Homo sapiens: one gene and its partners. The protein of the gene in region 2 interacts with the protein of the main gene of each other region in a pairwise test. Each region holds a gene or a part of one and is shown on either strand. Other genes may lie near its edges.

The links.
Region 1: the proteins of FOXN1 (region 2) and TRAPPC6A interact in binary tests that used the Homo sapiens proteins (3 or more experiments, as listed by UniProt).
Region 3: the proteins of FOXN1 (region 2) and TSSK1B interact in binary tests that used the Homo sapiens proteins (3 or more experiments, as listed by UniProt).

Annotation. Positions count from the first base shown.
Region 1 is NC_000019.10:45,165,227-45,168,352, reverse strand, and holds part of TRAPPC6A (trafficking protein particle complex subunit 6A), read left to right. Parts: intron 1-3,126. UniProt on the Homo sapiens protein: May play a role in vesicular transport during the biogenesis of melanosomes.
Region 2 is NC_000017.11:28,509,185-28,512,908, reverse strand, and holds part of FOXN1 (forkhead box protein N1), read right to left. Parts: intron 1-3,724. UniProt on the Homo sapiens protein: Transcriptional regulator which regulates the development, differentiation, and function of thymic epithelial cells (TECs) both in the prenatal and postnatal thymus.
Region 3 is NC_000005.10:113,432,190-113,436,292, reverse strand, and holds TSSK1B (testis-specific serine/threonine-protein kinase 1), read left to right. Parts: upstream 1-1,303; 5' UTR 1,304-1,453; coding exon 1,454-2,557; 3' UTR 2,558-3,740; downstream 3,741-4,103. UniProt on the Homo sapiens protein: Testis-specific serine/threonine-protein kinase required during spermatid development. Phosphorylates 'Ser-288' of TSKS. Involved in the late stages of spermatogenesis, during the reconstruction of the cytoplasm.

The DNA of each region.
Region 1 (3,126 bases), on a different chromosome or scaffold from region 2:
AATGTCTTACTGGTTTTTTGTTTTTTATTTATTTTTTAAGACAGGGTCAGGGCCGGGCGCGGTGGCTCACGCCTATAATCCCAGCACTTTGGGAGGCCGAGGTGGGTGAATCACGAGGTCAGGAGATCAAGACCATCCTGGCTAACATGGTGAAACCCCGTCCCTGCTAAAAATACAAAAAAATTAGCTGGGCGTGGTGGCGGGTGCCTATAGTGCCAGCTACTCAGGAGGCTGAGGCAGGAGAATGGCGTGAACCCGGGAGGCGGAGCTTGCAGTGAGCCGAGATTGCGCCACTGCACTCCAGCCTGGGCGACAGGGCGAGACTCTGTCTCAAAAAAAAAAAAAAAAAAAAAAAAAAAGACAGGGTCTTGCTGTTGCCTGGGCTGCAGTACAGTGGCATGATCATGGCTCACTGCAGTAGCGACCTCCTGGGCTCAGATGATCCTCCTGCCTCAGCTTCCCAAGTAGCTGGGACACGGGTGCATGCCACCACACCTGGCTAACTTTTGTATTTTTTGTAGAGAAGGGGTTTCGCCATGTCGACCAGGCTGGACTCGAACTCCTGGACTCAGCTGGGCGCGATGGCCCACGCCTGTAATCCCAGCACTTTGGGAGGCCGAGGTGGGCAGATCACCTGAGGTTGGGAGTTCGAGACCCGCCTGGCCAAAAGAGAAGAAACCCTGTCTCTACTAAAAATACAAAATTAACCGGGCGTGGTGGCTCATGCCTGTAATCCCAGCTACTGGGGAGGCTGAGGCAGGAGATTCACTTGAACCCGGGAGGCAGAGGTTGTGGTGAGCTGAGATCGCGCCGTTGCACTCCAGCCTGGGCAACAAGAGCGAAACTCCGACCTCCCAAAGTGCTGGAATTACAGGAGTGAGCCACTGCGCCCGGCCTAATCTTTCTTAAACGTATGTATAGCTCACATTTATTTCAGTGTTTAATATTTCAAGTGTTTTCATCCTTATTTAGAAGTTTGGTGATGTGTTTGTACCAGAAATATGGCATTGGAACTTCACTCTTGTTTATGTTAATTAACCTGCGTGAAATTGGTTTCATCATATGTCATTTTGCTTAAAGCCATAGTTTCCAAGAGCCTGTTGACAGCATTAGGTAAGGACTTACGGTGTCCTTTGTTGATGCACGTTGTCTCATCAGCCAGTCTGTTAAGCACCACCCACATGCCAAGCTCTGTGTTGGCTGCTGAAGGCCGGATGTGAATTGGTCAGCCTGGGTCCCCACCTTCACAGAGCTGTGTCCTCATCCAGGGACAGTGTGCAGTGGGCAGGGCTGGGGACGCAAGCTGGGAGGGAGGAAGGGAAGGAAGTCGGTACAAAGGCTCAGAAGTCTGAGCGAATGTCCTCAGGGGGCAGAGGAGAGGGTGAGGGAGGGATGGAGGCAGCTGGGCCCGCAGGCTGCAAGAAGCCTTCCTCGGACACGCTCTCCAGGCTGGGAGACCCGCTCCAGGGCTGGAGCCAAGCAGAGAATTCGCATCCCCATTCGGATGGCTGCGCTGATGGTGCAGCCCTGGAGGGAGGAGGCGGTAGCTGCCATTCCCAAGGGAAGGTGGGGGTCAAGGGCAGGAGAGGGAGGGCTGCAGGGCTCAGGCCTGGTGACTGCAGGCTCCTGAGAGCAGCCAGCGGGAGGGTGAGCTTCCTTCAGCTCAGGGCTGCACACCTGCCGCCTCTGTTCCCCCACTTCTGCTCTGCCAGGCTTTCTCTGAAAAACCTGGCGCCTCACGCCCCAGCCGTCCTGGGATTTCTGGTGCCCCCCAGTCTGGGCCTCCTCCCTTCCTCTGCTTGCAGCAAAACACCCGAATGAAAAAAAAAAAAAAAAAGATCCATGGCCAGGTGCAGTGGCTTTTGCCTGTAATCCCAGCACTTTGGGAGGCCAAGGCGGGCGGATCACTTGAGGCTAGGAGTTTGAGACCAGCCTGGCCAACATGGTGAAACCCCATCTCTACCAAAAATACAAAAATTAGCCGGGTGTGGTGGCACACAGGCCTGTAATCCCAGCTACTCGGGAGGCTGAGGCAGGAGAATTGTTTGAACCCGGGAGGCGGAGGTTGCAGTGAGCCAGCATTGCACCACTGCACTCTACCTAGGCAACAGAGTGAGACTCTGTCTCCAAAAAAGAAAACTCGCCAGGCGCGGTGGCTCACGCCTGTAATCCCAGCACTTTGGAAGGCCGAGGCGGGCAGATTGCCTGAGCTGAGGAGTTCGAGACCAGCCTGGGCAACACAGTGAAACCCTGTCTCTAATGAAATACAAAAAATTAGTAGGGTGTGGTGGCGTATCCCTGTAGTCCCAGCTACTCTGGAGGCTGAGGCAGGAGAATTGCTAGAACCCGGGAGGCGGAGGTTGCAGTGAGTCAGAGATTGGGCCACTGCATTCCAGCCTGGGCAATGAAGCTAGACTCCATCTCTTAAAAAAAAAAAAATCCATGAGCATCTCCTCTCCTCCAGCCATGCCCTCCACACACACAGGCACGTGGACAGACACCGAGTGCAGCCCTCCTACCTGGGGCCTGCCTCTGCCAGCACAGTCCCCTCCTGTATGGACCCTGGCCTACCCTCCAGACACTACATGGCAGCCACTGTCCTTTTCGAGCACCCAAACGAAGATCTGCCTGTCCCGAGCTTCCACGTGTTCCCCAGGGATCTTGGCCAATATTATAAGGCATGATGATCATGGTTGACTTCCACAGCCCCCTTTCCTGTGGCCCAGCCTCCAGCCCTTGGGCAGGTCACCTGGAGCATCTTGGTGGAGTCGCAGCGCCCACTTCCCAGGGCATTGTGAGGGTTCGCGCTGAAAGCACGTGCAGCCTGTCATGGGGGTTATCAGGAAAAGTCATGGAGGAGGAAGGGAGCCTGGGGAAGACCCCCATTGTTCCTGAGGGAAGGGGGAGCTGGTTCTTGGGGGCTGATGATCTGGGGATCCAGAGAGCCTGCAAGGTCTGCAGAGGTGGGTGAGGGAGCCCCAGCACCCTAGAGGCCTGCCCCTGCCCTGGCCGGGCTGTGCCAGAGCCCCTCCCTGCTCACCCCTGAACTGACGAGCACCAGCAAGTTGGTCTTTGGGTCCCCTGGCAGGTCCCCCCCTGGGTGGCCCCGGGTTCGTGGTGGCTAAG
Region 2 (3,724 bases):
TCCTTAGATGCTCCTTGACAGAGACCTCCCACCTAAGCATCCTCGGCCTCCAGGGATCTTTTGCTCTTACTTGTGGGTGTCATTCATGGTCTGCCTCCTCCACCCTCCTGCCTCCCTGGCTACTCTGGAGTCCAGGCTCTGAGGCTGGGAGCCTACCCCAACATCTTGCTCCCAGAAGCAAGGTCAGCAAGCTTGCCCCGCCAAGGTTAGTGGGGGAGGGGAATTCCCAGTTCCAAAAACATAAAACCCCCTTGGACAGGCAGTTTAAGGAGAAGGTTCTCCCACCTCCACCTTCCCCAGGTTCTAGAGATGGGGTCTTGCTTTGTTGCCCAGGCTGGTCTCAAACTCCTAGGCTCTCGCCTCAGCCTCTGGAGTATATGAGACTAAAAGTGCATGCCACGGTGCTCACCTATTCCCAGGGATTTTTTGAAGCCATGGCTGAGTCTGATGGTGAGAACTGGCCTGACCTAGGACTTGGAGGTGGACAAGGTGGCCTAGAACCACTCAGGGCTTGACTGGAAAGCTGGACTTTTGAGAAGGAGGAACTTGTTGCCTGCTTGATCCTTCCAGGGGGCAGTGTTCAGAAAGCAGTGATCTGAGGCCTTAGACATTGGTTTCTAGAGAAGAAAGTTCCCTGAAATCCTCAGTCTGCCCAGCTGTGATAAGGGCCAAAGAATGGCTGATGAGGTGGGGCATGAGTGAAGGACCAGGAGGCTTTTGCACAGATTGTGAAGCCTTGCCTTCATCCCTCCTCAACAAGCTTCCTCCAGCTACACTGGCTGAAGGGGATGGAGAAATGGGCTGGGGTATGGGATGAAGTGGCTGACCTCTAAGCACTCATTAGCTCTGGGTCCCTGTGGCCCGGAAGTCCTACCCCTGTAATGAAGTCACCCAGGGCTGAGCCCGATGGTCCCACCCCCAGCCTCCTGTGGGCTGTGTAGGTAATTGGCTTTGGAGTTGTTGGGCTGTGGCAGTGATTGGCAGCAGAGGATTTGATCTGTGAGACCAACAGGGATGTTGGAGCTTGGTCTCACCTCCCCCGTAACCTGGCGTTATAATCTCTGGACGCCTTCACTGAGCCCAGATCCTGGCTTCCCTACAGAATCCCCCTTTTCCCTCACAGTGAGTCCTCCCGACCAAGGACTGCAGGAGGGTCCTTTCCCAGCTCTGCTCTCGGTGTGGGCTAGTCATGAGAATAAACCTTGTTCCCTCCTTTATAAAATGGAGTCCTCATCTTTGCCCTACATACCTCATCTGGCTGTCCTGGGGACCGAGTGAGAACCAGAATGTCAAAATCCTCAGAAGTTAAACCAGCACCAGCTTGTCTGGTGCCCCTGCCTCCTCCCCTGGGGTCCCAGGCCTGTAGGATTTCAGGAGTGGGATGGGGCTGAGTGAGATCTTTTTACCTTCAAACATCTGCCCTTCCTAGGGGTGTGCCCCAGGGGGATGGTCAAGAGGGCCCTCGTCCTGCTGGTGCGCTCGCTCTTTGCCTGTCCACCTGAGTGGGGGCAAAGAAATGGCCCAGGATCCCACTGTCCGTTGGGCCAGGGGCCTCTCACATTCTGTACATATCATTATCAGAACTGCTCATTAATACCAATCTATTATTAAGGATATTAATTCTGCCACCACTACTAATAATACAGATTTAGTACAAGGCAAATACATACTGGTGCACCTCCTCTCCCAATGCCATCTTGCACAGGGGATGGGCAGGTGGTTATCTCCTTGAACTTACTAAGCCTTGAAGTGAGAAGTGCACTGGGAGGCCCTCCCACCCAAGCCCCTCTTTATCTGACAGATGGGGAAACCGAGGTCCCACCAGTGGGAGAGATTGTTCCCTGCTATGCAGGCATCTGTGCGCTGCTCCTTCCTCCAGGTGCTGGGGCTATGGGAAGCAGCTCTCAGCACCTAATCATGTCCCTGGAGAAGGGGCAGGCTCTGGGGGCATTTTCCTGAGCCCATCCAGCTCCTTGGCTCCAGCTGCCATCTTTCTCCCTTGACCACCCTCAGATCATACTGGATTTGGCATTGCCACCCCAAATAATTTTTTCTCCAAAACCCTTCCCACTTTAGGCAGATTGACCACGCTTGCGGGAAGGCACAGAGAAGCAGAGCCACCTCTATGAAGCCACATGCTCTTGGTGCCCAACGTGGGCTCCAGGAACCCTCTCCAGAGGAAGCTGGGGACACTGCCCCCACTGACAGTGAAGACTGCTGTGGTCACTCTGGGCCTGCGTGGAGGAGGGGTGCTAAGTGCAGAGTCTGATAATTGGGTTTTCTGATCACAGCGATGTGTGTGTGTGTGTGTGTGTGTGTGTGTGTGTGCGTGTGTGTGCGTGTGTGTGTGTGTCCTTCCTCATGTACATTCTATGCCTTCCGAGACTGATGGGCTGGTGCAGTCCGGGACATGGCTATGGAATTTACAAGTGTAAGTGGGACCTCCAACTGTCTCCAGGCAATCTGGTTCCAGGGATGCACCCCATTCTCATTCTGTGTGTGTGCGTGCGCGTGTGTCTGTGTGTGTCTCTGTGTGTGTCTCTCTGTATGTATATATGTATGCGTGTGTGCATGTATGTATCTCTGTGCATGTGTCTGGGTGTGTGTCTCTGTGTGTGTGTGTCTCTGTGTGTATGTGTGTCTCTGTGCTGTAGTTTGTCAGAGGCAGTGGGGGGAGCCCTGAAGGCCCCGGAGGGTGTATGAGGGCAGGATTTGGAGCTGACTGACAGTGCATCCTCCTGTGAGCATGGGGTGGAGGGCGAGGGTCAGACCTTGCAGTGGGCTTTCTGTTGCATTCTGGAAGGGGATGGGAGGATCTGGAGGGTTGCCTACCCCTGGAAGCTTCTAGAGTAGCTGTGAGAGCACAGGTTCCCTTTTCTCCATGACTCACAGCTGGCTCTCCAGTCAAGTTCCCCAAGAGATCACGATTCAGCGAATTCTCTCCCTGGCCCCATTAATCTGAGCTGACTAAGCAAGGGCCACAGGCAGGGTAGAGACCCGGGGATGCGCACTCCTAATCAACCCTAAAAATCCCTGCTCCTGCTTCCATGCCCCCTCTTCCTTGGCCCGCCATGCCTGATAGGATCAGTTACGCTCCCAGCCCCCTGAGAAAGCCTGCCCCGGCCCCGCTTTGGGGCTCTATGAGGGTGTCTCTCCATCCCCGCTTCACTGCCACATGCCCGCAGTGTGGAGGTCTGTCTGGGCGCCAGCCCTCCACTTGTCTTGTTGCATCTGAACTCATTTTTACTGTTTGGTGAGCATCCAGCCTTTACGGCCCAGATAGGATGAGGAAGCTAAGGGCTGCTCCAGGGATGATCTTGTCCTGCTCGTTTTGTCTATTGGCATGGCTCTGGGCTTTTCCTCAATGCTCAGACAACCTGGGGGACACCCCAGAACCTGGCGGGGATGCTGGTGAGGGGTGTTAGACTCCAAGGGAACCTGTGACATAGGAGGAGATCCATCCTGAGGAATGGAGCAGGAGGTGGAGATGGGGATAGGAGTGTGGTTGGAGGTGGGAGTGAGGAGATGAGGTAAGGAGGAAGGAGCAGGATGGGGTGGTGGTGATGGAGGCAAGTTTGGGGACGGGGATGAGTAGGAAGGGGGCTGGGCGGGATTGAAGGTGGGAATGGAGATAGGTTATGATGGGGAAAGAGACAGAGACGGGTGGAAGGGTCAGGGATGAGGTTGGAGTTGGGCACAGAGAGGGAGGGAGGGGCAGGGGATG
Region 3 (4,103 bases), on a different chromosome or scaffold from region 2:
TTCCCCAGCAGGAAGGAGAAGGAGGCTGTCTGGAGGAAGGAGCACCAACCACGCACAAAGGACTGGCAGTGGGCAGTCAGAGTTGGGGAACAAGGTGAAGGAGCAGAGAAAAGGGAGAAGGGCCACAGCTGGTGGTGACCCAACCCAGCCTGAGCGACATCCAGCTCTACTAACTCACTCCTGAAGGGCCCAGGGTTCCACCTGGCTCATGTGAGGAAGGAGTTCTCACTCCCTCTAGGTGGATGAGGCCAAAGTCAAATCCAAGGCTAGGACAGTCATGCAACTCCTTCTTCCTGACGGTGTGGCCCAGAGCAGGTGCTGGACACAGAACCAGTCACAGCAGAGGCTCCACTGCCAGAAGAAATGATGGTTGCTGTCCAGTGCTTCCCCTGCTGCTTGTAATGTCCTCAGAGCAGCTGCCAGTGCTCAGGGTGGCATCCAGGCCCCACCTTCAGCCCCCAGCCCCAGATATGCCCTGGGAGCCCAGCCAGGGCCGTGAGCTGGGCAGGTCCCCAGGAGGGAGCTCACAGCCAAGAGCAGAACTCCTGCCAGCTGTCCTCCTACAGAGCTGCTGTAAGAAGCCAGCAAAGGCTCAGACAAGGGAAGAGATGTATAGGGAGGCGGCAGAATCCAGGCATCTCAAACTGCGTGACTCCGGGGCCAGGAAGCTGTCTACCTTCTTGACACACCACTCTTCTTGGCCCTGCTCTGCACTCCTGAGGGTCACCTGTGTGGACAGCATCAAGGGCTGAAGGGGAGAAAAAGAAGTCAGGGATGGGACTTCCTCCCATCCCCTGCCAGCCTGTAGGGTCACTGAGGCTGGCTTTTTCTCCCCTGAAGGCCACTGCCTCTCTCAAGGTGGTCCTGTCTACACTACTCTTTCTGGGTTCCAGGGACCATTCCCACCCTTTTCTATGCAGGCCAGGGGTCTGCTACTATCTTGGGGTAATTGTGTGACCCTCAGGGTTCCCTACACTCTGCTCCCACCTTTATTAATTGTCCCTTTATTAAATCCTCCTCAGATGCCCTGGTTTGCAAGAATTGGCCTCAATTCTGCACAAGTATGCCTGGCTCTGGGTTTGGAAGCATGGGCAGGCCCATGTGTCCCACACAGTCCCCTTCTACCTCAGGTCCCAGCAAGACACGAGGCCACTTTCTGCTCATCTTGTCTGCTCCAGCCTACTGGCCAGCCTTCCAGGATTCCAAGTCCAAGTGCCTCAGGCCAGGGTCTCATTCCCCCAGGGCACTCCTCCTTTGTGACTTCACTCGCTGAAGTCATCTGGGAGACAGTGCCAAATGTTCCACTCCAGAGTCTTGGCCTCTAGGAGGCAGGAACAGCAGGCCTGGCCAGCCCAAAGGACTCTCTATCCAGGATGTAAATGAGCACACTGCTGGCCCATGCGCCTCGGGGCTGTAGAGGGCAGCCTCAGAGGCACTGGGCATTCCTGGCACCATGGATGACGCTGCTGTCCTCAAGCGACGAGGCTACCTCCTGGGGATAAATTTAGGAGAGGGCTCCTATGCAAAAGTAAAATCTGCTTACTCTGAGCGCCTGAAGTTCAATGTGGCGATCAAGATCATCGACCGCAAGAAGGCCCCCGCAGACTTCTTGGAGAAATTCCTTCCCCGGGAAATTGAGATTCTGGCCATGTTAAACCACTGCTCCATCATTAAGACCTACGAGATCTTTGAGACATCACATGGCAAGGTCTACATCGTCATGGAGCTCGCGGTCCAGGGCGACCTCCTCGAGTTAATCAAAACCCGGGGAGCCCTGCATGAGGACGAAGCTCGCAAGAAGTTCCACCAGCTTTCCTTGGCCATCAAGTACTGCCACGACCTGGACGTCGTCCACCGGGACCTCAAGTGTGACAACCTTCTCCTTGACAAGGACTTCAACATCAAGCTGTCCGACTTCAGCTTCTCCAAGCGCTGCCTGCGGGATGACAGTGGTCGAATGGCATTAAGCAAGACCTTCTGTGGGTCACCAGCGTATGCGGCCCCAGAGGTGCTGCAGGGCATTCCCTACCAGCCCAAGGTGTACGACATCTGGAGCCTAGGCGTGATCCTCTACATCATGGTCTGCGGCTCCATGCCCTACGACGACTCCAACATCAAGAAGATGCTGCGTATCCAGAAGGAGCACCGCGTCAACTTCCCACGCTCCAAGCACCTGACAGGCGAGTGCAAGGACCTCATCTACCACATGCTGCAGCCCGACGTCAACCGGCGGCTCCACATCGACGAGATCCTCAGCCACTGCTGGATGCAGCCCAAGGCACGGGGATCTCCCTCTGTGGCCATCAACAAGGAGGGGGAGAGTTCCCGGGGAACTGAACCCTTGTGGACCCCCGAACCTGGCTCTGACAAGAAGTCTGCCACCAAGCTGGAGCCTGAGGGAGAGGCACAGCCCCAGGCACAGCCTGAGACAAAACCCGAGGGGACAGCAATGCAAATGTCCAGGCAGTCGGAGATCCTGGGTTTCCCCAGCAAGCCGTCGACTATGGAGACAGAGGAAGGGCCCCCCCAACAGCCTCCAGAGACGCGGGCCCAGTGAGCTTCTTGCGGCCCAGGGAATGAGATGGAGCTCACGGCTTAAAGCCCAAGCTCTGAAGAAGTCAAGGGTGGAGCCAGAGAAGGAAGGCAGTCCCAGATGAGCCTCTATTTTCATCAGCTTCTTCTCTCTCCCCTTGAACTTGGTAACCCACATGGTTCTCCCGTGGCCCCTAGGTGGATGAGGCCAAAGTCAAATCCAAGGCTGAGACAGTCGTGCGACTCCTACTCCCCCAGAGCGTGACCCGGAGCAGGTGCTGGACACAGAGCCTGTCTCAGCAGAGGGTCCCCACTGGCCGCAACGGCTCAGTGACAGCAAGAGCAGGAAGAGCAGCAGGAAGGCACCGCTGTCCACCTTGGGCACCATTTATCCTCCTTTCATCGTCCCCGGGGCAGTTGCGTGACCCTGCTGGGAGGCCAGACCGGGCCAGACTGAGGGTCAGGGGACCAGGCTGGGTTGGGGGTTGGGTGGGGCTGGACGGGGACGAGGCGCGGAGAGGCGGCGGGAAAGAGCTTCGGCTGGGCCACGGGCTCGCGGGCACTCTCGGCGGCAGCCTCGGGGGCTCCGACTCCAGCTCTGGGCAAGATCCATAAACTTTTAAAGAAGCCTCAAAACATACTTTTAAAGCATTAAGCTTTAAAGTGCTAGAAATCTTGTGCCCCATATGTGCTTCTTTCAGTATTATCCTAGATCCTCAGGAGTAGCATGGCAACTGGAGAAAATGGGAGGAAAGACAAGAAGAAATAGAAGCTGATTTAACATCAAGTTTATTCAGTTTTGATTTTTCTTATCTCTACTGGCTTTCTCCTGTTCAAACCTTGCAGCGATAATATTTGGAAAAGAGCACTTGGAAATTATATTCCTGTTTTTAACTCTTTATATTTAATCATTCTCCTTGTAATTGATTTTGTAGCTAATTTACTCCCCAGCACCCCCAGAAGAAAATTTTACAAAGGAAAATGTTTTATTTTTATTTTTTCCTTATCAACTTTTTATTTAAATGCTAATATCCAATTAATGGACAAACGAATCAGCTAATACTGGAAACAATGTAACAATAGTGAAAAGCATGAACTTTTGATTTCTATAGACCGAATTTGACTCTGCTACTAAATGATCTTGGGCAAGTTGGTTAATCTATATGTCTCAGTTTCTTTATCTATAAAATGAGAATAATACAACTTCATTAGGCATGCTATTCATTAATGTGTTTAGTTCTCATAACCCTATGGGAGGGGTCCTATTATTATTCCCATTTTATAGACACGAAATTGAGTAAAGTCAGTTTAGGTCACTTGTCTCTGAGCACATGATAAATACGTGGCAGAGCCAAGGTTAAAGCCCAGGTACACTCCAGCTCCGAGCCAACACTGTTAGCTGTTTTTTTTTCTTTTCTTTTTTTTTTTTTTTTTTTTTTTGAGACAGAGTCTCGCTCTAGCCCAGGCTGGAGTGCAGTGGTGTGATCTCGGCTCACTGCAACCTCTGCCTCCCGGTTCTGGGTTAAGCAATTCTCCTGCCTTAGCCTCCTGAGTAGCTGGGATTACAGGCA